Linked DNA regions of Homo sapiens: region 1 is linked to region 2. Evidence: fine-mapped expression QTL. A gene starts in region 2. The other region holds a variant in brackets. All regions are shown on one strand. Distances are from middle to middle. Region 1 overlaps MAP3K3 (mitogen-activated protein kinase kinase kinase 3). Region 2 holds the start of MAP3K3 (mitogen-activated protein kinase kinase kinase 3).

The links. PIP is the estimated chance that this variant, and not a neighbour inherited with it, causes the effect. A credible set is the group of variants that fine-mapping cannot tell apart.
Region 1: its variant is the best candidate, but not a certain one, in a credible set for the expression of MAP3K3 in spleen (GTEx, PIP 0.77).

What each region holds. Positions count from the first base shown.
Region 1 is chr17:63,640,904-63,657,290 of GRCh38, reverse strand. MAP3K3 (mitogen-activated protein kinase kinase kinase 3) reads right to left here. Exons shown (of 16, transcript NM_002401.5): 3 at 11,217-11,257; 4 at 4,635-4,734. Among named protein-coding and RNA genes, the nearest start is that of MAP3K3, 27 kb to the right of the region's middle. RefSeq lists enhancers at 1,877-1,926, 10,199-10,248. The variant C/T (reference allele first, on the strand shown) is at 8,619.
Region 2 is chr17:63,615,098-63,631,484 of GRCh38, reverse strand. It overlaps MAP3K3 (mitogen-activated protein kinase kinase kinase 3), which reads right to left and starts at 9,068. Exons shown (of 16, transcript NM_002401.5): 1 at 8,722-9,068. The coding sequence starts at 8,725. RefSeq lists silencers at 8,318-8,367, 8,608-8,667, 8,758-9,147, 9,758-9,827.

The sequences.
Region 1 (16,387 bases), 26 kb before region 2:
ATACTTTCTGAGAAGAGCTGCCTCTCCAAAAACACTAATTTACTTCAAAATATCAAGTTGCAAACAGTTACAGCCCCCATATTCTTTTCCAAATTAAGTAGGATCATGTCCCACTCTACTGCCAATTGTGCTGACATTAATAGAACAAGCAGAAAAGGAAGAGAAGGGGTGGAGGGATGGTCAGAGGATGAAAATTGTTATACAAATAAAAACACAAATTTAGACTGCATAGCACGGTTTAATTATCTTTCTGTTTAAGGGCAAAGTCAGTGACTAGAACCTGAAAACTACCTCCTCCATTCTCACGGAGCTTTTCCCCCTTTGCTTGGCACTTCTCTCTCCTGTCGCCATATGAAGGATGTGTTTGCTTTCCCTTCCGTCATGATTGTAAGTTTCCTGAGGCCTCCCCAGCCATGCTGAACTGTGAGTCAATTAAACCTCTTTCCTTTATAAATTACCCAGTCTTGGGCAGTTTTTTACAGCAGCGTGAGAACAGACTAATACACTCATACGTTCCAGTGAAATATTAAATAGAAGGTCCCTGAGGGTACAAATAAGTCTCACTCACTGCAAAAAGCAGAGCATGTTATGAATACTTGGTATTAAGAGATTCATAAGATGCAAACGTATGCCTTGCTTAGGACCTAGCAAATGTCAGATCTTATTCTTATTCTTCTTATTTTTTGGAGACAGAGTCTTACTCTGTCGCCCAGGCTGGAGTGCAGTGGCACAATCACAACTTGCTGCAATGTCCACCTCCTGGGTTCAAGTGATTCTCCTGCCTTAGCCTCCAGAGTAGCCGGGATTACAGGTGCACACCACCACTCCCCACTAATTTTTTTTTTTTTTTAGTAGAGACTGGGTTTTGCCATATTGGTCAGGTTGGTCTTGAACTCCTGACCTCAAGTAATCTGCCCACCTCAGCCTACCAAACTGGTGGGATTACAGGAGTGAGCCACCACGCCTGGTCAGATTTTATACACGTATGGTAAACACAAAATCAAGCAAAAGTCCAATTAACTTACACAGTTCCCAATTTATAATACAAGATTTTTTTTTTTGAGACAGCATCTCCCTCTGTTGCCCAGGCTGGAGTGCAGTGGCACAATCTCGGCTCACAGCAACCTCCGCCTCCTGGGCTAAAGTGATCCTCCTGCCTCAGCCTCTCAAGTAGCTGGGATTACAGGCATGAGGCACCACACCCGACTAATTTTTGTACTTTTTGTAGAGATGGGGTTTCACCATGTTGTCCAGGCTGGTCTTGAACTCCTGAGCTCAAGAGATCTGCCTGCCTCAGCCTCCCAAAGTGCTGGCATTACAGGCATGAACCATCGCGCCTCGCCAAAAACAGTACATATTTAAAATAAAATCTCAAAACTACTTATGGAATGGGAGAATGTTCTGCAAATCATATTATATTGCAAAAGAATTTCTTCCTGTGTGACATTCAAAGTGGGAATAAATAAGAATGGTTGGGAAGGGAGTTAAATAAAAAAAACCAAGTAGGCTGGGGATAGTGGCTCACACCTGTAATCCTAGGAGGCTGTGGCGGGAGGCTCACTTGAGGCCAGGAGTTTAAGACCAGCCTGGGCAAAATAGTGAGACCCCCATCTCTACAAAAATTTATTTTTAATTAGCTCAGTGTGGTGGCATGTGCTTATTGTCCCAGTTACTGGGGAAACTGAGGTGGGGGGATCACTTGAACCCAGGATGTCAAGGCTGCAGTGAGCCATGATTGCACACTGCACTCTGGCCTGCGCAACAAAGTGAAACCCTGTCTCAAACCAAAAACAAAAACAAAACTCACAGTGACATATCACTTTACACCTACTAGGATGGCTATTAAAAGAAGAAAATAACAAATGTTGGTAAGGATGGTGGAGAAACTGCAGCCCTCACTGATATGGTTTGGCTGTGTCCCCATCCAAATCCCATATTGATTTGTAGTTCCAATAATCCCCATGTGTTGTGGCAGGGACCCAGTGGGAGGTAACTGAATCACGGGGGTGGTTATCCCATGCTGCTGTTCTCCTGATAGTGAGTGAGTTCTCACGAGATCTGATGGTTTTATAGGAGGCTTTTTCTCATTTGCTTGGCCCTTCTCTCTCCTGTCGCCATGTGAAGGATGTGTTTGCTTTCCCTTCCATCATGATTGTTAAGTTTGCTAGGCCTCCCCAGCCATGCTGAACTGTGAGTCAATTAAACCTCTTTCCTTTATTTGTTTATTTAAAAATAAAATAAAATAATTTTTTTTAATCGTTTTTTGAGACAGAGTCTCAACTCTGTCTCAAATGAGCTGCAATCTCGGCTCATTGCAACCTCCGCCTCTCGGGTTCAAGTAATTCTTCTGCCTCAGGCTCCTGAGTAGCTGGGACTACAGGTGTGCACCACCATGCCCAGCTAATTTTTATATCAGCAGCAGAGACGGCGTTTCACCATGTTGGCCAGGCTGGTCTCGAACTCCTGACCTCGTGATCTGCCCGCCTCAGCCTCCCAAAGTGCTGGGATTAACAGGCGTGAGTCACTGCACCTAGCCACCTATTTCTTTTATAAATTACCCAGTCTCGGGCAGTTTTTTACAGCAGAGTGAGAATAGACTAATACACTCATAAGTTGCTAGTGGGACTGTAAAATTGTGCAACCATTATAGAAAATCTGGGCAGTTCCTCAAAAAGTTAGAGTTATCTTATGACCCAGCAATTCCACGCCTAGGTATATACCTTACAGAATTGAAAACATATGTTCATTTAAACACTTGTAAACAAATGCTCATAGCAGCACTATTTAATCACCAAAAAATGAAAACAACCCAAATGTCTATCAATAGATGAACAGATACACAAAATGTGGTATATCCATAAATGGAATATTTATTATTCAGCCATAAAATAGAATGACATACTGACAACATGCACAGATGACCGTTGAAAACATACGCTTAGTCAAAGAAGCCAGACAAAAAAGGTCACGTACTGTATGATTGCACTACACGAAATGTTCAGAATAGGTAAATCCAAAGAGACAGAAAGATAAGTGCTTACCAAGAGCTGAGAAGAGGAGAGAAAGGGGAATAACTGCTAATAGGTACAGGTTTCTCTTTGGAGTGATAAAAATGTTCTGGAGGCCAAGTGCGGTGGCTCATGCCTGTAATCCCAGCACTTTGGGAGGCTGAGGCAGGCAGATCGCTTGAGCTCAGGAATTTGAGACCAGCCTGGGCAACATGGTGAAACCCTGCCTCCATAAAAAATACAAAAAAATTAGCTGGGTGTGATGGTGTGTGCCTGTAGTCCCAGCTACTTGGGTGGCTGAGGTGGGGGAATCGCTTGAGCGCAGGAGGTCAAGGCTGCAGTGAGCCGTGTTTGCACCACTGCACTCCAGCATGGGCGACAGAGCAAGACTCTGTCTCAGAAAAAAAAAGAAAATGTTCTGGAATTAGATAGCGGTGTTGGTTGCACAACTCTATCAGCATACTAAAAACCACTGAATGGTATACTTTTAGATGATAAATTTTTTAATCTCAATAAAACTATAATTACAAAGAGATAAATAAATAAAATCTCAGTAGATTTTTCATTTGGGATTCTTAGATCTTGACAGTGCAGGGTTTAAAGGGCAAACAAAAGAACGGAATTGAGGGATTTTAAATTAATCAAATGTAAGTTAGTCAACTCCTGATCATTAACATTAGTAGAGTATGTTAAGACATGTATGAACTAAAATAATAACAATGATTTATATTTGGCTTTAGAATAAAGAAACATCAGGAATTCTTAATGGAAATATTAACTGAAAAAGAAAAGAGTACTAAATGATTCAGAAAAGTCTTTACTAAAAGAAAAATTTTAACTCCTCATCAAATAAAATAAAACTACACAGTGATGATCTGGTTCTCAAAGGGTCATGATGTTGCCCAGCTTTCTTGTCTTGCACCCCTAACTCAATTTCCTCGAGGTACACATTCTTTACTCAGCATAAATACACTGCAAAGCACCAGCCTAAGCTGATTGTAGTCTGTAATATTCTTCTTGGAGCTGGGAAAGCAGCCCAGAAACTGACATTCAAAAGAATTCCTTCCTGGGTGATATTCAAAGTAGAAGTAAATAAGGACCGTTGGGGTGGAGTGAGGAGGAGGAGGAGTTAAAGAACTTATTGGAGCAGGTGCTAACATTTGAAACAAATAAGCTCCAATCAGAAGAAACTCTAAGAGAAGAATCCTGCATTTATGACTGTAATAGATGACCTACTCACTGGTTTTTCACACCTCCCTAGCCCCTGCTAAACCCTCTGCTTCTTGTTAAGGCTGTGCTGGGGGGAAAAAAATAAGATACTCCTACAAAATGTAAAGGAGACAGTATAAGCCCTAGCCCTGGTACCATACCTGATTCCACCATGGAATATTAGAGCTATCTGCACTGAATGAGTAGGGGGAATGGAGATGGCTGAGATGGCTGAGTAATCTCCCATGTAGTAAAAAACAGAGATCCCACAGTTGTTGGAATTAAGAAAAGGGGGTCTAGAAAATGAAAACCTGCAGATGATATTAGAGGAACAAACTTTAAAGGCTCTGGTAAACAGAGAGAAAAAAGGTAGGCATCTGCCCCTCTTGTCCCTGCCCCATCCATCTGCCTTCTCACCTCATTGTTCATGTAATGTAGATCAAGAGGTTGTCCAAATACTGTTGTCACCTTGTGCTCCACATCTTCATATTTCACAGGCCGGCTGAACGCTATAATTCTGAAAAGAAACAGAAAGAAAGGTTGGTTAATTGTATACTTAAAACGTAGGGTTTAAAAAGCAATGGTCTGAGTATATTCTTCCTTTCTTCTCAACATAGGATTCTGTTTTCTTTCACTCAATTTGCCTTTTCCCGATTGTTTCCTTTTTTCCTCTTCTCTACCGTTACCTTTCACCCTCTGAGCATCTATCAGGTTTGACAACAGTACCCACAACTATTGCTCAATCCCAACCATTCATCTACCACTTCAGCTTAGACTCTTCTGCCAATGACAGAAGAGGCCACTAGATTTAAAAACTATGTTCCAACGATGAGAACACACAGACACATGGAGGGGGAACAATACACACTGGGGCTGTTGGGACTTGGGGAAGAGAGAGTATCAGGAAGAATAGCTAATGCATACTGGGCTTAATATATAGGTGATGGATTAATCTGTGCAGCAAACCACCATGGCACATGTTTAACTATGTAACAAACCTGCACATCCTACACATGTACCCCAGAACTTAAATAAAAGTTGAAAGAAAAAAATTATTTAGGAAATAAGGTAGAAAACGTACAGACTGGAGTAGCAGTCCTGAAAACATGGCCTCAACTCCTAAGGGACTCAACTCTAGGACTTGAAAGGTCTTTTCCATCGTTCATCTTTGAGATGCCATAAGAATCTCCATACTGATTTTCCTCAGAATTAAGATTTTCTACTACAGAGTCACAGGAATTCCCCCTTGAGTTAGTGATATGCCTGATCAGTTTTCTTAACCAGTGACATATCTGTGCATGTAACTAGTATTGACATTGAAGATTTTCTGGAGAGACTCATTAGGTCAGTTCAAAGAACAATTTCTACAAATATAAGGTAGAGTAAGGAGTCATCCAAAGAGGTGTAAAATCTGATTTGTTATTAAATACTTCAGCAAAATTTAAAAGTGGGAATTGATAAAACAAGACTGGGAAAATGTTAGTAATGTTGAAGCTGGGTGACAGGTCCATGGGAGTTCAGTTTAATACTCTGTCTACTTTTGTGTGTGCTTGAAATTTCCATAATAAAAAGTTGTGGGGTTTTTTTGTTTGTTTGTTTCAAAACAGAGTCTCGTTCTGTCACCTAGGCTGGAGTGCAGTGGCAATGATAACGGCTCACTGCAGCTTCAACCTCTGGGGCTCACGCAATCCTCCTGCCTCAGCTTCCCAAGTAGCTGGGACTACTGGCATGCACCGACTAATTTTTTATTTTTTGTAGGGATGGGCCTCAATAAGTTGCCCAGGCTGATCTCAAACCTCTGAACTCTGGCAATCCTCCCACGTCGGCCTTCCAAAGTGCTGGTATTATAGGTGTAAGCCACCATGCTTGGCCAATAAAAAGTTTGAATGAATGTATTAGGTTGAACTATATGAGACTACTGATGGCCGACCATTTTTGATATATAAAAGTGGCAATTTTATATGGGTTCAACCCAATACTCTAGAACAGAAATGACTAAAAATAATCAGAGATAACTGAAGAAAAGAATATAAGAAAGAAACTCATACACACACATACTCTCAAATTTATATAAGAAAATACAGAATTAAAAAAAAATCTTGGGGGCCAAGCACTTTGGGAGGCCAAGGTAGGAGGCTCGCTTGAGGCTAGGAGCTCAAGATCAGCCTGGGCAAGATAGTGAGCCCTCCTGCCTACTAAACATTTTTTTAAAAAATTAGCCAGGTGTGATAGTACATGCTTATAGTCTAAGCTACTTGGGAGGCTGAGGTGGGAGGATCACTTGAGCCCAGGAGATCAGGGCTGTAGTGAGCTGTGATCATGCCACTATACTCCAGCCTAGGCAACAGAATGAGACCCTGTCTAAAAAAAAAAAAAACTCTCTCTCTCTCTCTCTCTCTCTCTCTCTCTCTCTCTATAAGAGACAGAGAGAGAGAAGGTCTTCCTAACCATAACATAAAATACAGAAGACAAGCCAGGCAAGATGGCTCATGCCTGTAATCCCAGCGCTTTGGGAGGCTGCGGTGGGTGGATCACCTGAGGTCCGGAGTTCAAGACTAGCCTGGCCAACATGGGAAAACCCCATCTCTACTAAAAATTTAAAAATTACCTGGGTGTGGTGGCACATGCCCTGCAATCCCAGCTACTTGGGAGGCTGAAGCAGGAGAATCACTTGAACCCAGGAGGCAGAGGTTGCAGTGAGCTGAGATCACACCACTGCACTCCAGCCTGGGCAACAGAGCAAGAGACTCTGTCTCAAAAAAATAAATAAATAAACTTCTGATTGCAAAATAAGCCATCAACAAAGTTAAACAAATATCAAACTTTGAGAAAATACTTGTAAAAAATCAATAAAAGACAATCTAATAGAAAAGGCAAAAGATTAGACAATTCACAGAAGAATTGTAAGTGGCTAATAAAACACATGAAAAGATGCCCAATGTGACTGGAGAAATGCCTATTAAAACAACCTTCATCTCTTAGTACACCTAAGCAGGATAAAATCAGACTAGTGTGTGTTGGAGCAAGCAGTATTCAGCCATGGGCCTGCGCAGTTCTTGTCCTCTTCCATGCTGAGAGGAAGAAGTGTGTGGTTCTTTCTCATCTTCCCTGCTCCCCCAGAGTGGGAAGTGGTGTAACCAGAGGAAGAAGCAATAAGCCACAAGAGAGAGGGATCTAAACCATTGGGTTTTAATAAAATCTGACCAGATAATTTCTTTAATGTTCTTCTGTAACAGGTTGGCTCAAATCAGTGAGAAGCATAAAAGCCTTCATCATCTAGAACTGCATCTGCACTATTCAATATGGCAGCCATTAGCCACATATGACTATTTAAATTTAAATTGATTAAACTGAAAATTGGTTCCTGAACAGGTACAGTGGCTCACACCTATAATCCCAGAACTCTGGAAGGCCAAGGCAGGTGGATAGCTTGAGTCCAGGAGTTTGAAACCAGCCTGGGCAAAATGGCAAACCCTGTCTCTACAAAAATTACCTGGCTATGGCAGTGTGCCTGTTGTCCCAGGCACCTGGGAGGTTGAGGCAGGAGGACTGCTTGAGCCTGGGAGGTGGAGGCTCCACGATCACACCACTGTACTCCAGCCTGAGCAACAGAGATCCTGTCTACTTTTTTTTTTTTTTTTTGAGATGGAGTCTCGCTCTGTCGCCTAGGCTGAAGTGGCACGATCTCGGCTCACTGCAAGCTCCACCTCCCAGGTTCATGCCATTCTCCTGCCTCAGCCTCCCGAGTAGCTGGGACTACAGGTGTGCACCACCACACCCAGCTAATTTTTATATTTTTAGTAGAGACAGGGTTTCACCATGTTGGCCAGGCTGGTCTGGAACTCCTGACCTCAGGTAATCTTCCTGCCTCAGCCTCCCAAAGTGCTGGGATTACAGGCGTGAGCCTCTGTACCTGGCCCAGAGACCCTGTCTTAAAAGAAAAAGGTTCCTCTGTCTCACCAACCACATTTCAAGTGCTCATTAGCCACATGTACAGCAGCCATATGTGTACTGGACAGCACAGATATAGAACATTTCCATTATAGCAGAAAGTTCTACAGGGCAACATTGATAGACTATTAATATAAACCATAATCTATCCTTCACGCAAAGCCTAACATCTCAAGAAGGTAATTCCTTCCTGTTTTTTTCCTTTGTCCATCACCACCTTTCATTTTTGGAAATTATACTGCTAACCAAATTAGTTTCATCTCCACTAGGAAACCCATTGAGACTGTAATTCTTTTTTCTGTGTGTGTGTGATGGAGTCTCGCTCTGTCCCCCAGGCTGGAGTGCAGTGGCTCGAACTCGGCTCACTGCAACTTCCACCTCCCAGGTTCAAGCGATTCTCCTGCCTTAGCCTCCCGAGTAGCTGGGACTACAGACGCCGGCCACCACGCC[C/T]GGCTAATTTTTGTATTTTTAGTAGAGACGGGGTTTCACCATATTGGTCTCGAACTCCTGACCTTTTTATCTGCCCGCCTCAGCCTCCCAAAGTGCTGGGATTACAGGCGTGAGCCACCACACCCGGCCCAGACTGTAATTCTTATATTTTTTTCTTCCAAATCAACTGTCCCAAGCAGTGATACTGTTAGGTGCTATCTAGATGGATTCTCTAGATAGAGGTGTTTCTGAAGCCTTTTGAGAGGATAGCTTTCTATTAATGCCTAATAGCAAATCATACCCCTCCTTCTTCAAGGCCTCAGCAACAGTGCAAAAGGGTCCAGCCTTTCTGGATAAAATACCAGAAGTCCACTCAGATGTCCCTAGCACACTATTGAAAAAGGATCATGATCAGAGATAAATTCTTCTGCATTTGGCCTAGCAATGAGCCATTCAAAACCCACAAAAGCAGCTTGAAAGTCTGGTCAAGATCAGAGGCCAGGACTTCCAGATTGGGTAAGATCTAAGCTGCTGCCATCCTATTGAATAACAGGCATTTTTAGGCCAGTGCTTCAAAGAGAGGTCTAACACCCATGCAACCACCCCCATCAGTGTGTCATTAACATTTCCAAAGGGAAGGAGATCTTAATCTACAATCCTTCTCCCCAGCCCTCCTGGGGCCAAAAGGGAGGACAGTCAGGGGTCTGGTCCCCATATTCTCAAAGTAAAGGGAAAGTCAGCCCACCAGAATGAATACCTGTCATGGATAAGTGGGAAAAGTCATGACTTCTTTCCTCTTTCCTGTGAATTCTAATTCTATAAGGGCCTACATTTAGATAAATACTACCCATATTCCAGGTAAAAAGTTTAAAATGCCCATAATGACATTCTCTACAAAATCCTGACGTGAAATACACGAAACTAGAGCTGTGTGGCACAGAGTACTAACTCTGTTGGCTTCCCTGCACCAACTTTATAAAGTCCTCAATTCCACATATAGTACACAAACACTGAAATGCCATGGCTCCTGAAAACAGCTCCGTAAAAAGAGAATGCACCATTTTCAAAACCTTGATAAGCAACGTTCTGCTGCTCAGGGCTTCAGAAGGCCATTCCTGCCTGACCACCTTAAATATTTGTGGTTTCAATCTGGCAGCTTCTCTGAAACCAAACACATACACTTTCTCAGTGTAAGCCTGCTCACTGTAACTGCATACCACTTTGGGAACAGGGAATTCAGGAGAGCCTAACTGCGTAATTGGGCTCCAACACAATTGTGCTTTTGATTGAAAACTCTGCTGCTCTGAGTTTGGCCATCCCTTTAAAACTCAGGTTGGAAAATGTGAAAAGTAGCAACAGTGAAGTGACAATTTAACTTCTCTGCTAATGGCAGGACACAGGAAGAGCAGCTGGGGACAGAGCTCAGACCTTCCTCCCTCCAGGCCTGGAACTCACATAGGAGCAGAAGGACCCTGGCTCTGCAGACCACACTTTCCACAATGCTTCCACCGGGTTGCCTCTGACAACCTTGTAGGCTTGTGAATGTGTATTTTAAAGGGAGAATAGTAGCCACAGGTCTCCTCTGGAGCCAGCTGCAAAGTAGGCTGAAAGGTACCAACTGTAGAGAACTACCAGAATCAAGAATGTTTAGAGGTACTAAGGTCCTGTGGTGAGACTCTTAAAGTAGGAAGACCTCATACTAATGGGTATGCTCTTCACCTGTCCAAATGCTCAAAGCAAAGGAAAGCTGAGGGTGGCAGGGGGTAGTATATCAATGGGAAAGAAAGGCAAAGAGTGGAAAAAACACCGAAAGGCACATTTATGTGTACATGTGCCGCACATGCACAAACATGCAAGGTCCCAAATATCCCATGTCCAGAGTTCTGTATGCTTTCTGAATGTTTTCCTTAAATAACTTCAGAAATTAAGTACAGTCACATTTTTTCTACTGAGAACTTCTACCTTGGCTTCCCACAAAAAATAACAATAATGAAAATACTGACAATGGAGAAAAGGACAGAAGAGTTTTGTAACACTACTTTCACTTCCCTAATGAGGTAAGATTCAGAACACAGACCGAAAAACTCCCTCTTTCTATGTCCTCAAAGGAGCTAAAGTCTTTTACAACTGATGGACTTGGTGCAGCTTCCCATGACCTAGAGACATCATGAAGAAACTTCTAATTCACCAACCTGACCCTTGATGTGGACAAAGCCAGGGCTGCTCTACTGGGAATAGTAATGGCACCATATCACAGGAGAATCCTGCCCTCCCTCTAATGCCCACAGGTGACACAGTGTCAGTGTGTCTGAAAGCCATGACTCTGAGTAGGGCCAGAGTCCTCACTTCCTAATAAAATGTCAGACCTCACAGCAGCAGAATAGAGCAGAACAGTAAAACATCAGCAGTTGAAATGGCTTCCAATGCTAAGATAGGAACAAGGTTCAATTAGTAGGCCAAGACAAGGGTGAAACTTTCCTCCCTTTATGCCCAATCCACCCTATTACCCAGCCAGTGGCCCCACAGGGATCAGGACAGGGGAATGACTTCCATGAACTCAATGCTATCTGAGAACTTTGGCATACATGAACACAGCTACTCATCAGAAGGCAGACTTACCGCCTCTCCCCGTTGTGCTCGAACTTGATTCTGACGTCACTCTGCCAAAAAGAATGATAGACAGGTTAGAGAATTCTCTGGAATGTGTCACTCCTGCCATTGCCAAGTAAGCCTTGGGCAGTTCGTTAGCAACATTAGGCATACATCCCTGATGGCTCCTGGTCCAGCTTCTCTTCCCAGATGGGCATGGGCATTCCTTTCCAATGAGTTAAAACTTCCAGTTCTAACATCAGGGACAACAAAGCTCTTAGGGTAAGATCCCTAGGTGGCTGCCCAGCTCAGTTGCTATGCTGTGACATGCTGTTTCTAGCTTCATACACACCCTATTTCTACAATTGGCTCTGGAAGTTTCTCCCACTCTATCACCTCCTGACCAGGATACATTTCCTTGTTGGCTGATGTGACTGAAGACAAAAAAGAAATTTTGCTGCTGATGCTTTCTAGCTATATGACCACAGGCAAGTTACTTATCCTCTGTGAGTCTTAGTTTTTCCATCTGTAGAGTAAGCCTAAACATACCTTGCAGAGTTCTTACAACAACTAAATGTAAGTAAAATACCTGACACATAATAGACATGCAATATTTGGTTTTTGCTGCTGCTGCCACTGGTACCACTATCATTGATTTCCCAAAACCCTCCCAAAGCTACCCCACTGGGGGTAAAGTAGGATCTTATACACTGTTCCCAGCCTTTTCCAAAATGACCATCATGAGTAGCCTGTAAACTGCAGGAGAGCAGAGATCAGGTCTATCATGTTTCTTTTTTTTTTTGAGACGGAGTGTCACTCTGTCACCCAGGTTGGAGTGCAGTAGCACAATATCGGCTCACCGCAACCTCCGTCTCCCGGGTTCAAACGATTCTCTTGCCTCGGCCTCCCGAGGTCTATCATGTTTCTATATCCCCAGTGCCAGGCAAAGGAAATGGCATATAATATTTGTGCTTAATAATATTTGTTAAGTGGTTGAATGAATTGAAGAACAGAAGTATAAATATGAGAAATAAGAGGAAGTAGAAATGTTAAAATGACAAAGAACAAATTAAAGAGGAAGAGATATTGCAAAAGGGCAAACAAACAACTTGAGGGAGTTTAAAAAATGACAGGGAAAGGAGAGAGATATTACAGAAGAACAGGTGTAGAGGAAAAGAAAGGTAAGATGGGCAGGAAACCAGCAAATAATAGAGATAAAGGAGAGAATGAAGTCATAGTCGATGAAGAAAAATTATTTTGAAGAAGACAAATTAATAGGCTGTGGCTTGGAAGAAAGAGGACTTAAGAGTATTTGAAGATGAGGAACACATAGCAAACAGACAACAGAAAAGGGAGTGAGTTTGAAAGGAAGGGTAGATGCCTAAAGGACTCCCTTTTCCCAAGGTATTAAGGGACTAGACTTCTCTTCCAGTTCAATGAATTACAAGAGTGGTTCTAATTTACACTGTAAAAATTATTAAAGACCCCAAAGAGCTTTTGCTTATGTGGATTATATCTATTGGTATTTACCATATTCAAAATTAAAACTGAGAAAATTTACTTTATTCATTTAAAATGGCAATTAAAGGCCAGAGGCACAGTGGCTCACAACTGTAATCCCAGCCCCTTGGGAGGCCGAGGCGGGCAGATCACTGGAGGTCAGGAGTTTGAGACCAGCCTGGCCAACATGGTGAAACCTCATCTCTACTTAAAATACAAAAAGTGTGCCGTGAGTAATGGCGCACACCTGTAATCCCAGCTACTCGGGAGGCTGAGGCAGGAGAATCGCTTGAACCTAGGAGGCAGAGGTTGCAGTGAGCTGAGACAATGCTGTTGCACTCCAGTCTGGGTGACAGAGTGAGACCCTGTCTCAAAAAATATACAGCCCTGATATAGCCTTCTTATCCTGTAAGATAACACATGGACCACTTTATCCATTAATAATAATGATAATAGCTAACGTTTATTGAGCATTTACCACAAACCAAGCATTGTTCTAAGCATGTTTACATATATTAATTAAACTGATCCTCAAAACAAGTACCATTATTATCCCTATTTTACAGAAAATAACTGAGTTACAATAAGATTAAGTAAGTTCCCCCAAGGTCAGGTCATATCGCTTGTAAAGGAAGAGGTAGGATTTGAACCCTGGAAGCCTGACTCTTAACTACCATGCTATGCTACAACTTAAGTGTCACACAGGCACTGAGAGCAGTTTTTCACTATCTTCTTTTTCTCGTTCCCCTGAAATTCTAAACAGTTACCATGACAAGAGTCCTCTAAAGCAGAGTTGCCATGCTCTGATGTGTGGTCTCCAGCTTCCCACACTATTTCCTCAACTGGATCTGGAGTATCCCAAGTGCTCTATGAAGTTTGTAGTCCTGTCTGCCCCTGTGGGAGGGTTATACATCCTTTTACCTGTTCCTGCCTACAGCCCAGCATACCTTGCTGTAGCTCTATTATTTTAATTAATAAATTTTATTTTTAGAAGAGTTTTACATTTACAGAAAAACTGAGCATACAGAGCAGAGTTCTGATATATCCTTCTCCCCTTTGTACAGTTTCCCCTATTATTATTATTGTTATTATTGAGACAGGGTCTTACTCCTGCCACCCAAGCTGGAGTGCAGTGGTACGATCACGGCTCACTGCAGCCTTGACTTCCCGGGCACAGGTGATTGATTCTCCTACCTCAGCCTCCCATGTAGCTGGGACTACAAACAGGCACATGTCGCCACACTGGGCTAATTTGTAACTTTTTGTAGAGATGGGGTCTTGCCATGTTGCCCAGCTAGTCTCAAACTCCTGGGCTCAAGCAATCTGTCCACCTCAGCCTCCCAAAGTGCTGGGATTACAGGCATGAGCCACCACACCCAGCCAGTTTCCCCTATTATTAATATCTTACATTAGTATGGTATATTTCTTTTTGTTACAATTAATTAATCAATATTGATATATCAACTAAAGTCCATAGTTTACTCACATATTTCCTCAGGTTTTTGTTTTTGTTTAATTTTTTTTTTTTTTCATTTTTAGAAGTTTTAGGCCAGGTGTGGTAGCTCACGCTTCTAACCCCAACACTTTGGGAAGCCGAGGTTTGAGGATTGCTTGAGCCCAGGAGTTTGAGATCAGTCTGGGCGACATGGCAAAACGCCATCTCTACAAAAAATACAAAAATTAGCTGGTTGTGGTGGCACACGCCTGTAGTCTTAGCTACTTGGAAAGCTGAGGCAAGAGGATTGCTTGAGCCCGGGGGGCTTGAGGTTGCAGTGAGCCATGATCACGCCACTGGACTCCAGCCTGGGTGATAGAACAAGGATTCTGTCTCAAAAATATATTGAAACAAAACAAAACAAAACAAAAAAACGAGGTTAAAAACACACACACACATAACAGCTTTCATTCTTAAACTGGGACAACATTTTATTTATTTTTTTATTTTTTGAGACAGAGTCTCACTCTGTTGCCCAGGCTGGAGTGCAGTGGCGCGATCTCGGCTCACTGCAGCCTCTGTCTCCTGGGTTCAAGTGATTCTCCTGCCTCAGCCTCCCAAGTAGCTGGGATTACAGGCATGCACCACCATGCCTGAATGATTTTTGTATTTTTAGTAGAGACAAGGTTTCACCCCTGGCCAGGTTGGTCTTGAACTCTTGACCTCAAGTGATCCACCCGCCTTGGCCTCCCAAAGTGCTTGGACTACAGGTGTGAGCCACTGCCCCAGCCCTGGGACAACATTATATTTAGATATACTAATGAAGGAATCTCCTCAGTGCCTTTATGGAAATGAAGGAACTAAATTTATTTCATAACGAGCCATAACCTAAGCACTGCTCTACATGAATTTATTCAGAAAGGGAATTAAACTTTTGTTCCAAACCACAAATCACTGCTACTTAAGACTAACCAAGCCTGTGACTAAAAAGCAGTGTAAACAAAGATGCTTCTTTGATGCCATGACAGCCTTACAAGCTTCCATGAACCACATGATATGCCCAAATCTTCTGAGTCCCTAAATCTGAATTTCACCCATCAGGTTGACCATAATAAGCCATAGATAAGGGAAGTTCAGATAAAGATAATTTGATTCAATGCCTTCCGGCCAGCCATTCTTCTTGTCCTCTCTGAGGCATTTCACACTGGTGGGTGGCCAACTCTATTTCCAACTTCTGTGACTCTATCCCAGCACAGGGAACCTGCTACCACTCTGACCACTTCTGCTTCTTTGCTGGTTCCTCTTGTTCATGCCCTCTCCCACCCCTCCCCAAACACATGACCATTCCTCAACCTTGCGACTTCTGACTTCTGGCTTTCTCCTGCTCTGCATACAACTTCTCAGTGGGCCTCTAAATAGATGATTCCTCAATCTCTATATGTAGCCCCAATCACTGAAGCAAGGCTCATCTGCTTGCCACGTATCTGAGGCCAATATGTAGTTGTTAAGAATGTAGCACTGGAGTCCAACTGCCTGCTTCAAATCTTGGCTCTACAACTTCCTAGCTGTGTAACCTCGAACTTAGGTTGGTGCAAAAGTAATTGCAGTTTTTGCCATTAAACCTAACTGCACTAGGCTGGGCGTGGTGGCCTTGTAATCCCAGCACTTTGGGAGGTCAAGGAGGGCAGATCACGAGGTCAGGAGTTCGAGACCAGCCTGGCCAACATGGTGAAACCCCGTCTCTACTAAACATACAAAAATTAGCCGGGTGTGGTGGCGGGCACCTGTAATCCCAGCTATTCGGGAGGCTGAGGCAGGAGAATTGCTTGAACCCAGGAAGTGGAGGTTGCAGCAAGCCGAGATCACGCCACTGCACTCCAGCCTGGGTGACAGAACAAGACTCCATCTCAGGAAAAAAAAAAAAAAAGTAATGGCACTGCAGCCTCATACTTAACCTATAACTTAGTTTCCTCATCTGTAAAGTGAGAATGATAGTATCCAATTTACGGAATTATCAAAAGAATTAAATCATATAATTGGGTAAAGTGATTAGAACAGTACCTGATATACAAGTGGTTGGTAAATGGTAATACAGGTCTATTATCCTTTAGCCAAAATTCTTGGGGCCAAAAGTGTTTCAGAATGCATGTTTTGGATTTAGAGGGGTAGTATGGTAGATGTTCTATAAATCATGTGATGCCTCCCCAGGCAGTGGAGTGGGGGGTGTCTGAGACAGTACTACTGTGGTAGAGGCAGAATGCTCAAG
Region 2 (16,387 bases):
GGGGACTTGGGGCACACCTTAAAAGAAGCAAATACAAAAGATTCCACCCAAAGAGAGTGCCTATCTTCTACCCTTTATCACTGTCCCTTGGAAATATTCTAATACCCTGTGGAAAGAAACGAACAGCATGAAATGTAGGAAGTAAAACTGCTCAAGTCTCTTCTCCCACTACTGATTAACTGATTGACTGACTGACTGAAACAGGGTTTCACTCTGTTGCCCAGGCTAGAGTGCAGTGGTGCAATCACAGCTCACTGCAGCCTCCTCCACCCCCAGGCTCAAACAATCCTCCACCTCAGCCTCCAGAGTAGCTGGGACTACAGGTGCACACCACCATGCCCTGCTAATTTTTGTATTTTTTATTGAGCGAGGGTTTCACCATGTTGCCCAGGCTGATTTCAAACACCTGAGCTCAAGCGATCCTCCCTCCTTAGCCTCCCAAAATGCTGGGATTACAGACATAAGCCACCGTGCCTGGCCCCTCACCTTATTTGCCTCTCCCCTCTTCCTAGACGAAATCTGCTCTGGTGCCCTATATGCCCTCTGACGAGGTACAGAAAAGGACAAAGTTGCCTATAAAGAGGTTTTTGCTTGTTCAGGAAAGTAAAATTAGATTTAAAACTTGCAGGAAAACCACCAGGAGCATAACTTCCCATATGATTCCACTTCAAAACATATACAAAAGTATGTATGAGAGTGACATAGCTGTAATATAGAAAGCATGCAGTAAAGGGGATAATGAATGAGGAGAAAGTGGGTATCTACAAAAAGACATCTGTCAAATTAACACATATATATCCCATCAATTATTTTATACCTTCTACAATTTCCCTATAGCTTCTTTAAAGAAGGGAACCTGGCTGGACAGGGTGGCTCATGCCTGTAATCCCAGCACTTTGGGAGGCTGAGGCAGGTGGATTGCTTGAGCCCAGGAGTTCGAGACCAGACTGGGCAACATGGCAAAACTACATTCTACAAAAAATACAAAAAATTAGCTGGGCATGGTGGTGCACGCTGTAGGCTCAGCTACTTGAGAGGCTTAGGTGGAAGGATCACTTGAGCCCAGGAGGTTGAGGCTGCAGTGAGCCATGATCATGCCACTGTACTTCAGCCTGGGCGACAGTGAGACCCTGTCCCAAAAACAAAAAGGGAACTTGGTTTTTTGTTTTGATTTTTATCCTCACAACCAAACTTTAAAAACTAGAGCATAACATCTAAGCTAGGAAGATTGGCTTATATATAATATGTATAGGTTTATATATTAAATGGCTTAGATATTATTAAATATATATAAAATTGGGCCAACTGTAATAATAAATTGGGATCAATACAAGGAGGATTATGACTAGGTTTAAGTGTTTTCTGAGGAGCATCCAACAATACTCCTAAAAGCGGAATGCAAGGAGTTATCAGTAACAACATTAACCACCCTAAGTATTGAGAATTTTCAGTTCTTTCAACTCAGATATTGAACAAAGATGGATGTGAATACACATACAGGCACACACATACACACACCACTTTTCAAGTCAGATCCACAAGTATGACTGAAGAAATCATTTCTAATTCTGTATAAGATGACGCTATTATAAGAGCTGGTTTATCAGGTTGACAAATTCTGTTTCCAGGAAGCTAACCAATTCCTGGCATTACTTAATGAACAAACTTGTTTAGTAGTTCCAGAGCTGAGAACACACTAGTGGAAAAGTTTGGCACTGTCATCTGAAATCTGGGACAACTGACACAAGTGAATCAGGGTTATAGAATCTAATTTTGTGTCAAAGTAAAATACATTCCTAGAGGTAGACAGGTTCTTCAACTGATACTTCAGAGGACATGTATAAAGACAGGAAGTAAATCAAGTGGCTCTTTTAGGCATTTCTTCCTGGATTGAGGTTTTGTTTTTGTTTTTTTTCCTTCTAAAAAGCAACATCACTATGCACACTTGGCTGCCACAAGCCAGTTATCTCTGTGGTATGGACTGAGACTAACTGAATTATCAGCACTCCTCCAATGTGGCATTCTTTAAAAACAAACAAAACTTTTAAAAACAAATAACAGGCTGGGCGCAGAGGCTCACGCCTGTAATTCTAGCACTTTGGGAGGCCAAGATGCGTGGATCACTTGAGGTCAGGAGTTCGAAACCAGCCTGGCCAACATGGTGAAACCCCGTCTCTACTAAAAATACAAAAAAATTAACTGCGCGTGGTGGTGTGCGCCTGTAATCCCAGCTACTTGGGAGGCTGAGGCAGGAGAATTGCCTGAACACAGGAGGCGGAGGTTGGTGTGAGCTGAGATAGCGCTACTGAACTCCAGCATGGCGACAGGGCGAGACTCCATCTCAAAAAAAAAAACAACAAATAACAACTTTCTTAGACTGAAGCAGTTAGGAATATGAACTTCAGAGTCAGAAAAATTTGGTAAGGAGGCCCTGAGCAAATCATTTATTCTCTCCAAACCTCAATTTCCTCATCTGTAAAATGGAGATAAAGCATCATTTCACAAAGCTGCTGTGGGAGTTAAAAGCAACAGAAAACCTACGAATTATTTCTTATGGTACCTAACACAGTAATGCTAAAAAAATGCTGGCTATTATTATCATCAATGAGAAAAGGTCAATGGAAAAAGACTGGAGGCCATTTAATCTACCCTAATACTTAATTTTATTACTGAACTTTTATAAATCATTAACAACAATTTACTGAATACTTATCTTGTATTACACATTAGAAAGTTTTAAAAGATATTTCAAGGTGTTCAAACTCTAGGGATAAAAAGATAAACAACACACAAATACAAAGTTGTATGAAAAAAAAGATAGAATTGGCAGGGCCCAGGGGCTCACGCCTGTAATCCCAGCACTTTGGGAGGCTAAGGCAGGTGGATCACCTGAGGTTAGGGGTTCGAGAACAGCCTGACCAACATGGAGAAACCCCGTCTCTACTAAAACTACAAAATTAGCTGGGCGTGGTGGCACATGCCTGTAATCCCATCTACACGGGAGGCTGAGGCAGGAGAACTGCTTCAAGCTGGGAGGCGGAGGTTGCGGTGAGCCAAGATGGTGCCATTGCACTCCAGCCTGGGCAACAAGAGCGAAACTCCGTCTCAAAAAAAAAAAAAAAGACAGAATTAGACAATATATAAACCAGAGTATATAAATACAAATGTATAAAAATAAATATTTTTAAATATGAGTAGCTTATATGGTTATATAAGAGGTTATATGGATGATTTTACATAATTGTTAACAGACTAAAGATTCTTTAAGAAAAGCAAGCTGGCTGGGCGTGGTGGCTCACACCTGTAATCTCAGCACTTTGGGAGGCCGAGGCAGGCAGATCACCTGAGGTCAGGAGTTCAAGACCAGCCTGGTCAACATGGTGAAACCTCATCACTACTAAAAATACAAAAATTAGCTGGGCGTGGTGGTGCACACCTGTAATCCCAACTACTGTGGAGGCTGAGGCATGGGAATAGCTTGAACCTGGGAGGCAGAGGTTGCAGTGAGCCAAGACTATGCCAACACATTCCAGCCTGGGCGACAGAGTAGAGACTCTGTCTCAGAAAAAAAAAAAAAGGATTGAAGAAAATAAGAGTGACAGGCCGGGCGCATTGGCTCACACCTGTAAGTCCAACATTCTGGGAAGCCAAGGCGGGCATATCACTTGATCCCAGGAGTTTGAGACCAGCTTGGGCAACATGGCAAAACCCCATCTCTACAAAAAATACAAAAAATTAGTCATGGCCAGGCACGATGGCTCATGCCTGTAATCCTAGCACTTTGGGAGGCCGAGGAGGGTGGATCAGCTGCAGTCAGGAGTTCAAGACTAGCCTGGCCAACATGGTGAAACCCTGTCTCTACTAAAAATACAAAATTAGCCAGGCATGGTGGCCGGTGCCTGTAATCCCAGCTACTCGGGAGGCTGAGGTAGGAGAATTGCTTGAACCCGGGAGGCAGAGGTTGCAGTGAACTGAGATCGTGCCACTGCACTCAAGCCTAGGTGACAGGGCAAAACTCCACCCCAAAAAAAAAAAAAAAGTATTTGTGAACTTTACACGTGAACAAGTTGAGGTAGCGTAATAGTGTGCTTATAACTTTGAAAAGATTTCCTGAGAGTGGGAGTGGTCTGACACACTTAGAAGCTACCAGGAAGAAGCATAAGGAGAAAGAGGTTAATTTTAGAGATTAAGAGGTTAAGAATCTAGGAAAAGGAGGAGTATTCATGGAACTAGAAAAGGATCTATCAAACAAGGATTAGAGTTCAGGCTTAAAAAGTAGAAGCTCTTAGGCAGTTTTAAGTAATTCCCCAGTGGCATGTAGTTTTTCTTCTCCTGGTACCCCAACCTGTGGTATGGAGGCTGCCAGGCAACATACTCCTCTCTTTAGCTCCAGCAGGAAGCCACTCTTCCAGACTGAGCTATTACTTGTATCTCAAAGCAGGGTCTTAAGGCACTTCCCATTTGTGAGTTCCCTTGGCTAACAACCCAGAAAAGTTGCCAGAAGCACCACATTCTCTAATAAACATTGTTATCCCGTATGGTGTCTGTTTACTATGCCACACACTCTCTCTCTTTTCCATAGATACAATCCCCAAAGTAATGTTTTAATCTTTGTTTTGTTTCATTTAACTAATGATGTTATTTCTTCATCTTGACAATGTTCTACCCAGCTCCACCAGATCGTCTGATCGCACTGCCCACTCAGGAGAGTCTGTGCTTCAGTGTCCCTGAGTCAGATTTTACTTTCTCTTCATGACATTCCACATACTTCCACTGCCTCCACCCTGTCCATGCCCAGGCAAACATCATTTTACAATGAGTATATGCAATAAGGCCAGACCCTCAATTCATAAGAAACTTTTATCCTTCAAGAAATGGTTGAACCTTTGCTAAATCTCAAAGTCAAATGCTGGCGTTTTTCTGTTCTAAGATATAATAGGCATTCAATATTAATTGATGGTTCAAATTCTTAAAACACATATTATAAAGTAGGCCATTTATTCCTCATAAGAATCAATATATATCACCACTACATTTTAACGTTTAGTGAAATTAACCCAAAGGACTGGAGACTATAGAATTACATGTGTCAATACCAAAACGACAGAATTGATCTCTCTCCTGTATATCTTTACACACTTTTGCACTTAATTGTTTACATGTTTCTGCTTCACCTTACCTAACTGTAACTTCTTGAGGACAGGATAACACAGGCACAGGGCTTAATACTATGCCTGGCACATAGGAGGCATTCAACAAATGGGCAAAGAATAAATTAACAGCTTCCATAGAACCAGAAAAACCTCATCTTATCCTCTGTGTATTCCCCTAAGTAATGCTCAGTTGGACAGATACTTACTTTTTACAGATGCCTAAAATTCAGCTATTTTTTGTTTGTTTTTTGTTTTAGAGACAGGGTCTCTCACTCTTGTTGCCTGGGCTGGAGTGCAGTGACACGATCATGGTTCACTGCAGCCTCAACCTCCCAGGCTCAGATGATCTTCCCACCTCGGTCTCCTGGGTAACTGGGACTATAGGGGCATGCCACTACGCCCAGCTAAGTTTGTGTGTTTTTAGTAGAGACAGGGTTTCACCATGTTGCCCAGGCTGCTCTCGAACTCCTGGGCTCAAGCGATCTACCAGTCTCAGCTTCCCAAAGTGCTGGGATTATAGGTGTAAGCCACCATGCCCAACCTAAAATTCAGTTTTAAAATCCAACTGTCATTTTTAAAAATATCAGAAATCTAGTAATGACATAGCCATGTTGATTTATTAAACTGTGATTCAAATTTCAATCAAAACAGCTGCTAACTATTCAGAGTCTACATAGGTGGTCAGATTCTAGCCAAACTGAATTGAGACTATTCTAACAGGGAGCTCCTAACAGCCTTGGAACCCTAGACAAGGTGTCTGTAAGTCACAATAATTCTGACTTCAAACCAGAACCAGATCATCTGTAATCCTGTACTCCATTCACTATAGTTTCCTGTAGCATTTCCAAGTTGTTACATATTTTTCAGTGATATATAAAGTTTCAGACTGCGTTTATAAAAAGACCACATAAACAATCTCAGGTATTATGAACAGCATTTGCCACTATGATTACTAAATCTGGAAATGAATTCTGGAGTGACCAAGAAAAAACAACCAGTCAATCCCAATTTTTTATAGCCACATAGTATCAAAGCAAAAAAAAAAATTTCCTATTATTTACAGAGATAAATAATTTCCACTAGAAATTCATTGGGGCTAACAGACAATATAAAATCTGACATGTTTTTATTAACCCAAGTTGTCAAACAGGCTTCAGTCTTGGGCTTAGAACAGCTCAGGAAAATGTGACTGTTACTTAACCAAAGAACCTGCAGGGCAGAGACTCAAGTTTTAGTCCTTTCTTCATGAGGCTGGAGTTTAACAAGTATAACTAAAATACTAAGAAGTCTATGTTTCTCTCTTATCAATCCTTTGAGTTTATTTAGAACTACAGCAACTAAAAGCAAACTAACTAAACTGGAAATTCAAATTTTCATCACCAAAATGGAAACTAGTATTTAAGAGAGAGACTGTGTGTGAATGTATCTGTGTATACATATCCTCAATGAGCTCTATACAAAGCAAATTGAACAGCCAGGTGTCAAGAAGAATTCAATATTAGCTCTAACAGTGTATCAAGGTCATCTACTTTCCCCTCACAAAAAAGATGGAGAGAATTGTATGGGGGAAAGTGAAGAAAGCTAGGGCAGTGGTTCTTAAACTAGCTTGCCTAATATACTGCAGCCACCAGGGAAGTTAATTCCTCTTGCATGTTCCTTTTACATGTGTCTTCACGTAAAACTGACAGGAGGACAACTGATGTGGGGACAAATGAGAAGATCCTGAGGTCCTGGCCCTTTTTTCTTTGGGGCTCTAGACCCAGCCTATATAGTTTCCTTCCTCCCCATCATTGGTCTCCATATACTCACACACTTATAAACTTTTTGAAAATGTCTTGAAATGTGAAAACAGGTTCATATCTATTTTCATGTTAGATAATGAGATGTAGTCAACACATGTGGGCACTCTAACTGGTGTAGCAGTCAACAAAGTAGGAAGTGGATGGTCTACATACCCTTAAGTATTTCACACTCTCCTTTGGGACTAACAGCTGCCCCCACAGGACAAGAAAAAAGACTTGTAAGAAAGACTATCACAATACAGGCTCATAAATCAATTCGAAGATTTATTCAAAATCTATAATACAAGATAAATGTTTGAATCCTGGGGTAGACAAGAATTCTGTGTCTCATCTATAAAAAAATTCAATAAACATTTCTTCAATTATATATTTAAATACCAGGCCTTACTGGGTTCCTTTTATGTCCACTCTCACAGCAGACCTTCCCTCAGAAGAGCACGCACTTCTGAAGGAAAGCATGAGAAGGAAACAGTAAGCCCAGCAAATGAACAAACCCTTCTCATACTGTATGAGGGACAGCATGAACTAGAACAAGGCAATTCATTCAAAGCCAGGGTGTAGAGATGGGTCACAAAACAATATCTGGCGAATTTGACATAGCGTACAGTTAACCTCCTACAAAAAGGACTTGACCTTGCTATAGGGCAAGGCAAACATTAAGGCTCCCTCTTCACATGGGGCACTTCACAGAAGCAACGGAACGTTTTGCAAACGATCCTCTCACTGAAGTTTACCCTTTTATTATTATTTAGGGCAATACCAAATATTTTGCAAAACTTGTGACAACAGTATCACAACACCTGTCTGGGCAGGAGAAGTAAAGAACGTTTAAAATGTTATTTCTTAGTCTAGTCCAGTAGTCATTTGCTAAACTACCAAAAAGGATATGGAATATAATTCAACTCAAATGCTACGTGCGGAAGACATTAAAAGCTTTCCTTAGATTACATCTTCACAGTAGAAATTGTAAATACTGACAAAAAGGAAGTGATTTCAGAGAAATTCTTTTGTGTAGCAAATGTTTCTTTCAAAAGTTACATAATTTCAGGGATACCGCAAGAAAAAAATAATGGATTAAACCCCTGCAACGGGATTTTTCAAAAAGTAGGATGTGAATTCTAACTGGCAGCATCCGACCAACTCCTGACCCCCAGCAATCTGCGTGCAGCACGCATTTGTCAACCGCGCGCTTGATCACAGCTCCAGTTTAATCGCCTCCTAGCCGAGCCCCGCACGCCCTCCCCCCTGCGCTGGGGCGCGCACAGGGCTGGAGAGCAAGCCCCGGGAACTCTCACAGGCCGGCCTGTGTGAGCAAAGGGAAGGAAATGACACAGGCAGGAAAAAAAAGCAAATCAAGGAAAAGACACAACAGCAGCTGGGCCTGCGGCAGCCTCCAGCCCGGGCCCCACACTGCGCTCTTGCTCCCCCGCCCTCGGGCTCGCGGTCCGGCTCGTTCGGACCAGGCTGCCCCGCGGAGCACGGGCCCTCGGTCCCGCCGCCGCTTCCCCGGGATGCGCCCGCCGCGCCGCCCAGAAGGAGGGCTGCCGAGCGGGCTCTGCCGGCCGGGCCGCCCCGCGGAGCCAGAACCCCCGCCCGGGCCGCGGCGCGCGAGCGGGGCGGGCGGCCGGCCGGCCGGCGGTCCGCAGCCCCGGGCCGGGCGGGCTGTCCATGCCTGTCAGGCGGTGGCCCAGGGTCCTCCTCCCTCAGCCTGGGGCGGGGCGTCGCGAAGCAGCGCGGGCACAGGCCGGGGCGGTGGCGACACTTACCCATGGTGGCGATGGCGGCGGCGGTGGCTAAGGTCCGTGAGTGTCACCTCCGCAGCCGGGGCTGCATGCCGGGGGCCCGGGCGGCGGGGACGGCAGCGGGCCTGGCTCCGCGCGGGGGGCGCGGGCTGCGCTCTGGGCCCCCGCCGCCTCCCCAGGCTCCGGCTCCGGCTCCGCCCGCGGCCGGGCGCTGTGGCATCGGCAGGGTGGCCCGCTACATCCCGGGCGCTCCTGGGCTCGGCCCAGCCCGGCCTCGGCGGCGCCGCTCGGCCCGCCCGCCCGCCAGTCCCTCAGACCCGCAGTCTCTCCGTCCGGCCACCGTTCTCCACCTCAGGAACGCTCCGAAAAACAAACCGCTGGTCGCGCAGCTCGCCCCCCTGTCTGTCACTCACGCCGGCCCCCACCAATCCCAGGCAGCCGCTGGGCCGTCGCACCACCCCCACCCACCTCACCAGCCAATAACAAGAAGGAAGTCGGCAGCCCCCGCCGTCCCCCTCCAACTCTCTCCCAACACCCTAACTCTCAGCGGCCAGCTAATCATCAGCACCACACGATGAACCAATCCCGCCTACTCTCACAGGATGCCAATGGGCGAAGCCAAGGCGGTTTCCGAGGGCTGTCTAGCGCCTGCCAATCATCGGGACAGCGCCCGGCTCCCTGCGCTGTTAGCCAATCACGTAGAGGCCTCTAAGCCCCCGCCTCTGCGCATCCCTCTCTGGTGCTGTCTCCCTCTCTTGGGAGAGATTGGGAGGTGTTGGTTGTTCCAATCACAGCTCCGGCGTGAGGCTCCGCCCACATTCCCACCTCCCGTCAGTCACCGAAGGCTCGGCGGGCGCGCGGGCTGGCGCAGTTCCCCGCCGGCTACTTTAGGGCTGGGGTGAGGAGTAGGCGGCTGCAGGGGGCCCTCAGGCCTTCCGCCCTCCGGGTTCTCGGAGGCCCCAGCGATCTGGGTGGTTCCAGAGGGTGGCGTCCTGCTCCTCCCCGTGCCCAGCACAGGGCGTGTAACGAGTGGGGAGGGTCTGGCCTGAGCACTTCCCGGCGCGCGGCCACCTCTGCGGCCCCATCCCCCGACTGGTCCTCCGGTCCCGACGCTGCTCTTGCCCCGGGCAGGGGCGGCCGGCCCAGCCCAGCTTTCCCTGTCTCACACCTCCAGGGCCACACCCTCTGGTCTAGGTACCTCAGACACCCGAGGCTGGGATAGTGCTGGCATGTGGGTCCCTGGAAATCTGAGTTCCGCCAGAGGTTCTTTCAGAAAATAACTTTTTTCTTATAAAAGCAACACGAGCTTTTTGTAGGAAAATTGAAAAATGCAGAAAACTATGAAAAAGAAAAGATCCCACCCCAGAGATAATCTATTTCCTACCTAGATAGGCGTTTGACAAAAATGGCTTTGTATTGTTTTGTAGTATGCTTACATTTTATTCTGTTTTCCCGTGCCACCAAATATCCTTCCAAAACAATTGTACTGATTGCATGATGTTTCAAAATTAAAGGCACCATAATTAATTTCCCCAACCTTTTCATTGTTCAACATTTTATACACTCAGATCTTCAGATTCCAAGTCCACCACAATTAATGTGGGCTCCTTTCTCCGGCCTCTGTTCCAGTGTAATATGTCAGGCTCCAGAATAATCTTCCTCAGATGTCATTGTCCACTGTCCACTAAGAACATTTAGTGGTGGCTTTGCCTTGAGTGTCAAATCCCTTAAGAATTACCTTGGGCTCTCCCCTATTTCTTTTCTTTTTCTTTTTTATTTTTCGAGATGGAGTCTCACACTGTCGTCCAGGCTGGAGTGCAGTGGCGCGATCTCGGCTCACTGCAACCTCCGTCTCCCGTGTTCAAGCAATTCTCCTGCTTCAGCCTCTCAAGTAGCTGGGATTAACAGGCGTGCGCCACCACGCCCGGCTAATTTTTGAATTTTTAGTAGAGACGGGGTTTCGCCATGTTGTCCAGGCTGGTCTCGAACTCCAGACCTCAGGTGATCCGCCAGCCTCGGCCTCCCAAAGTGCTGGGATTACAGGCGTGAGCCACTGCAAGCAGCCTCCCTTATTTCTTTACACTCATCTCCGTATATTTAATCAGCCCCCTTGTCCTGTTTTCTTTTTCTTCCAACAAGCTTAAGCCTGCCATATTCCCACTTGATTTGGTCTCTACCCAGTTTACTGGAGTTCCTTAACTATAATAATCTCTATTCTTGAAAGCGGGGATAAAGGGGAAAGAAAATTAGTATTTATCAATATAACAGGCACGTCATTGCATTTAATTTTTCCAATAACTCTAAGGTTATTATGCTAATACTGTGGGCATTTAAATGATGAAAGTGAAGCTTAGAGAGGTTAAGCACTGTGTCCAAGTAGTGGAGCCAGGATTCATACCAAGCCTGTGTGACTCCCAAAGGCCATGTTCTTGCACTAGGCCAGTGTTTCTCAACCTTTTTTTCATTATCCACCCCTGCCAGGAAAAAATTTTAATTTAAATTACTTAATTAAATTTAAATTCTCCCTAAGAAGAGAAATTAAATACTAAGGAATAAGATTTTGTCAGGTAGAGTAGAGCCTTTGTAAAAAAAATTTTCTGTAGAGTTGGGGGTGTCCCACCATTTTGCCCAAACTGGTCTCAAACTCCTGGGCTCAAGCAATCCTCCCACCTCAACTTCCCAAATTGCTGGAATTACAGGTGTGAGCTGCCATGCTCCTTTCTGTTTTCCCAATTGCTAAAGCACAGATGCTGCTCGACTTACCATGGGGCCATGTCCAGATAAACCATCAGATGAACAATCGTTAAGTAGAAAATGCATTTAATACACCTGACCTACTGAACATCATAGCTTAGCCAAGCCTATCTTAAGCGTGCTCGAACACTTAAGTTAGCCTACAGTTGGACAAAATTATCTAACACAAAGCCTATTTTATAAGAAAGTTTTGAATAGCTCATGTAATTTACCAAATACTGTACTGAAAATGAAAAACAGAATGGTTGTACTCAAAGCACAGTTTCTACTGAATTGTGTGTTGCTTTTGAACCATCATAACGCCAAAAATCATAAGCTGAGGCCGGGGCACAGTGGCTCACACCTGTAATCCCAGCACTTTGGGAGGCTGAGGCGGGTGGATCACTTGAGGTCAGGAGTTCGAGACCAGCCTGACCAACATGGTAAAACCCTATCTCTACTAAAAATAAAAAATTAGCTGGGCGTGGTAGCGCACACCTGTAATCCCAGCTACTTGGGAGGCTGAGGCAGGACAATTGCTTGAATCCGGGAGACAGAGGTTGCAGTGAGCCAAGATCATGCCATTGCACTCCAGCCTGGGCAACAAAAGCAAAACTCCATCTCAAAAAAAAAAAAAAAAAAAAAAGGTATAAGCCGAACCATAGTAAGTCAGAGACCCTCTGTACAAACCTAGGAGTGTTCCTTGATTATTCTCTCTCCCTGACACCCATATATCCAAACATGCAGCAAATCTTTTCAGCTCCCACTTCAAAATGTATCTGAATCAGGTCGGACGCAGTGGCTCACACCTGTAATCCCAGCGCTTTGGGAGGCCAGGGCAGGTGGATCACCTGAGGTCAGGAGTTCGAAACCAGCTTGGCCAATATGGTGAAACCCCATCTCTATTAAAAATATAAAAATTAGCCAGGTGTGGTGGCCTGTAATCCTAGCTACTTGGAGGCTGAGGCAGGAGAATCGCTTGAACCTAGAAGGCGGAGGTTGCAGTGAGCCGAGATTGTGCCACTGCACTCCAGCCTGAGCAATAGAGTGAAACCCTGTCTCCAAAAAAAATACAATAAAAATACACACACACACACACACACACACACACACACACACACACCTGAATCCAACCACTTCTCATCCCACCCCCCTTATCCAAGCCACCACCTACTCTCCTGAATGACTGCCCCAGACTCCTATCTGGCCTCCATTGTTTCCTCTGTGGCAGCCCAACAAATGATTCCCCAATAGCAACCAGAGTGATCCCTGTAAAATGTAATTCAGATCACGCCACCCTACCCCCTGCCCACTGTCAGCCCTCCAATGGCTTCCCTCCCATCACACTCAGAATAAAACCCCAATTCTTTGTCATGACCTGCCAAGCCCAATAGGAGCTGGCCCCTCCATCCTGTCCCTCCATCACTGTCCTCTAGCTACTCTGGCCTTCTTTCCATTCTTTGAAACTACCAAGCCAAGATGTTCTCATTTCTGCAGTTTATTCAAGTCTCTGCTCAAACGTCTGCTTTTAAGTCATTTCTTATCACCCCATCCAAAATGACCCCTCCCTTCCATCATTCTGTATTTGTATATTTTTTCCTTGTTTTTTTTTCTCAGTGGCTAAAATTATATATTTATTTGTTTGCTCTACTCCAACTACCACAAACATAAGGTATGCAGGAGCAGGAATTTTGTCCTGCTTACTGCTCTATCACCAGCACTTAGAATAGTGCCTCACACATGGAGAACCGCAGTACATCTACCTGAGTCTTTAGCTGAAAACAACCTTCTGATTTACCTTCTACCTTTCTTACAACTGCCTTCTTTGTGGCTTCATTTGCACTGTCGGTGTCTCAACCAGCCATCTCAAACATTCCCATACTGCAGTTACCATATGCGCTGAGGATTCCAGAATCTCAACTGTGTCTCTAGCTCAGGGATGTCTTTCTTCTGAACTCCACAGACATGGGTGTCCCACAGGAACCTCCAATTTTGGGTCCAAACTGAAACCATTTTCCCCCATAGTTCTGTATTTTCTCTGTCCCTCTCCAGTTTCCCAAGTTGGATACCTTCGAATGATCAGATAGCTCTTTCTCTCCATTTCTTTCCCCCACAGCCAGTCTTGAACAAGTCTCCAATCTGTCCATCCCTCTCCCATCCCATTTTACCACCCTAGCTCAAACCACCAAAATCTCTTACCTGCATGACTTAAGCGTAACAGCCTCTCAACATATATTCACATCACAGATTGATCTTTCTGAAATGGACACCTGATTCTGCCATACCCTCCCTAAAAAGTTTCCCATCACCCTTAGGATAAGTCATATATGTGAATGTAGTTAAGAAGGTCCTTCAGGACCCAACCCATACCTTCTTCTTCAGCCACACGTCCTTCTATTTCCACCTTAACTATAATAGTTAACCCCATTATTCAAATTCTATGCCCCAGCCACATAGAACCACCAGCAATTCCTCAAATGTGAATTTCTCTTGCTTCTATACCTCTGCGTGTGCTATGTTCTCTGCATGAAATCCTCTTCGCTTCTGCTTCCACCTCCATTCTTTTTTTTTTTTTTTTTTTTTTTTTTTGAGACGGAGTCTTGCTCTCTCGCCCAGGCTGGAGTGCAGTGACGCAAGCTCCGCCTGCCGGGTTCATGCCATTCTCCTGCCTCAGCCTCCCGAGTAGCTGGGACTACAGGTGCCCGCCACCACGCCTGGCTAATTTTTTGTATTTTTTTTTTAGTAGAGACGGGGTTTCACCGCGTTAGCCAGGATGGTCTCGATCTCCTGACCTCGTGATCTGCCGCCTCGGCCTCCCAAAGTGCTGGGATTACAGGCATGAGCCACCACGCCCAGCCCCCACCTCCATTCTTTCAGGGAAGAGCTAAGCCTATACAGCATTCTCCAGGAAGCCTTCTCAGACAGACAACTCCAAGTCCGGGTTAAGGCCCTCAGACATGCTGTCAGAGCACTGGGTACTTTCTTCATCAAAGCATGTGTCCTGCTAATAATTGTCTTTAACCAAGTATGTATAAAAAGGCCAGGTGTGGTGGCTCATATGTCTATAATCCTAACATTTTAGGAGGCTAATGAGGGAGGATTGCTTGACGCCAGGAGTTTGAGACCAGTCTGGGAAACATAGTTAGACCTCGTCTCTACAAAAAAAATTTAAAATTATCCAGGTATGGTGGCGTGTGCCTGTAGTCCTAGCTACTCAAGAAGCTGAGGTTGGAGAACTGCTTGAGCTCAGGAGGTAAGGCTACAGTGAGCTATGATCCTATCACTGCACTCCAGCCTAGATGACAGGGCCAGACCCTCAAACAAAACAAAACAAAGCAAAACAAAGCAAAACAAAACAACCAAATTAAGCATAAAGACAGAAGCTGCTTTCAAATCAGCATGCCTCTCATCTTTCATAGCACATTAAAAAACAAATATTTGTCAAATGAGTAAGTGAACCTCAAATGGAGATGTTAGTAACTGAATGTAATTTCCATAATGTTCCCTTTTAGGTATATGCAGTATTTTATCTTCTTTTTTTTTTTTTTTTTGAGACGGAGTCTCGCTCTGTCACCCAGGCTGGAGTGCAGTGGCGTGATCTCGGCTCACTGCAAGCTCTGCCTCCCGGGTTCACACCATTCTCCTGCCTCAGCCTCCCAAGTAGCTGGGACTACAGGCGCCTGCCACCATGCTTGGCTAACTTTTTGTATTTTTAGTAGAGACGGGATTTCACCGTGTTAGCAAGGATGGTCTCAATCTCCTGACCTCATGATCCGCTCACCTTGGCCGCCCAAAGTGCTGGGATTACAGGCATGAGCCACTGTACCCAGCCGAAAATTCTTTTTTGAGACAAGGTCTTGCTGTCCTCCAGACTGGAGTACAGTGGCACAGTCATAGCTTACCACAAGCTCAACCTCCCAGGTTCAAGGGATCCTCCTGTCTCAGTCTCCTCAGTAGCTGATACTACAGGCTCATGGCACCACACCTGACTTTTTATTTTCATTTTATTTTTGAAGACAGAGTCTTACTCCATCACCCAGGCTGGAGTGAAGTGGTGTAATCATAGCTCACTGAAGCCTTGACCTCCTGGGCTCAATCTTTCCACCCCAGCCTCTCAAGTAGCTGGGACTACAGGTGCACACCACCATGCCCTGCTAACTTTTGTATGTTTTGTAGAGACAGGGTTTTGCCATGTTGCCCAGGCTGGTCTTGAACTCTTTCGGCTCAAGCTATCTGCCCGCCTCAGCCTCTTGAAGTGCTGGGATTACAAGTGTGAGCCACCATGCCCGGCCCTAGCATCTTTTTTAAAACAGACAATCCAAATGCCCATTGATAGGAGACTGGTTAAATTATGACACGTTAATACCAAAAAAGTTATGTAGCTATTAAAAAGAATGAAGAGACTTCTCCATACTAATACTAAAAGGTAACCAGGATGTATTGTGAAGTGAAAAAAAAAAGGTTAAAGCAAAGTATATAGCATGATCACTTTTCAGTTTTAAAAAATGCTCATTCAGGCCAGGTGTGGTGGCTTATGCCTGTAATCTCAACACTTTGGGAGGCTGAGGCAGAATTGCTTCAGGCCATGAGTTCAAAACTACGTATCAAGACCCTGATATGCCTGTCCAACATACTGAGACTCCATGTCTATTTAAAAAAAAAAAAAAAAGAAGCTGGCCAGGCAAGGTGGCTCACACCTATAATCCCAGCATTTTGGGAGGTCAAGCTGGGAGGATCACTTGAGCCCAGGAGTTCAAGACTGGCCTGGGCAACATGGCAAGATCCCATATCAATTAAAAAAAAATTTTTTTTTTTTTGAGACAGAGTCTTGCTCTGTGGCCCAGGCTGGAGTGCAGTGGTGCAATCTCACTGCAACCTCTGCCTCCTGGGTTCAAGCAATTCTCCTGCCTCAGCCTCCCGAGTAGCTGGGATTACAGGCAAGCACCACCCAGCCCAG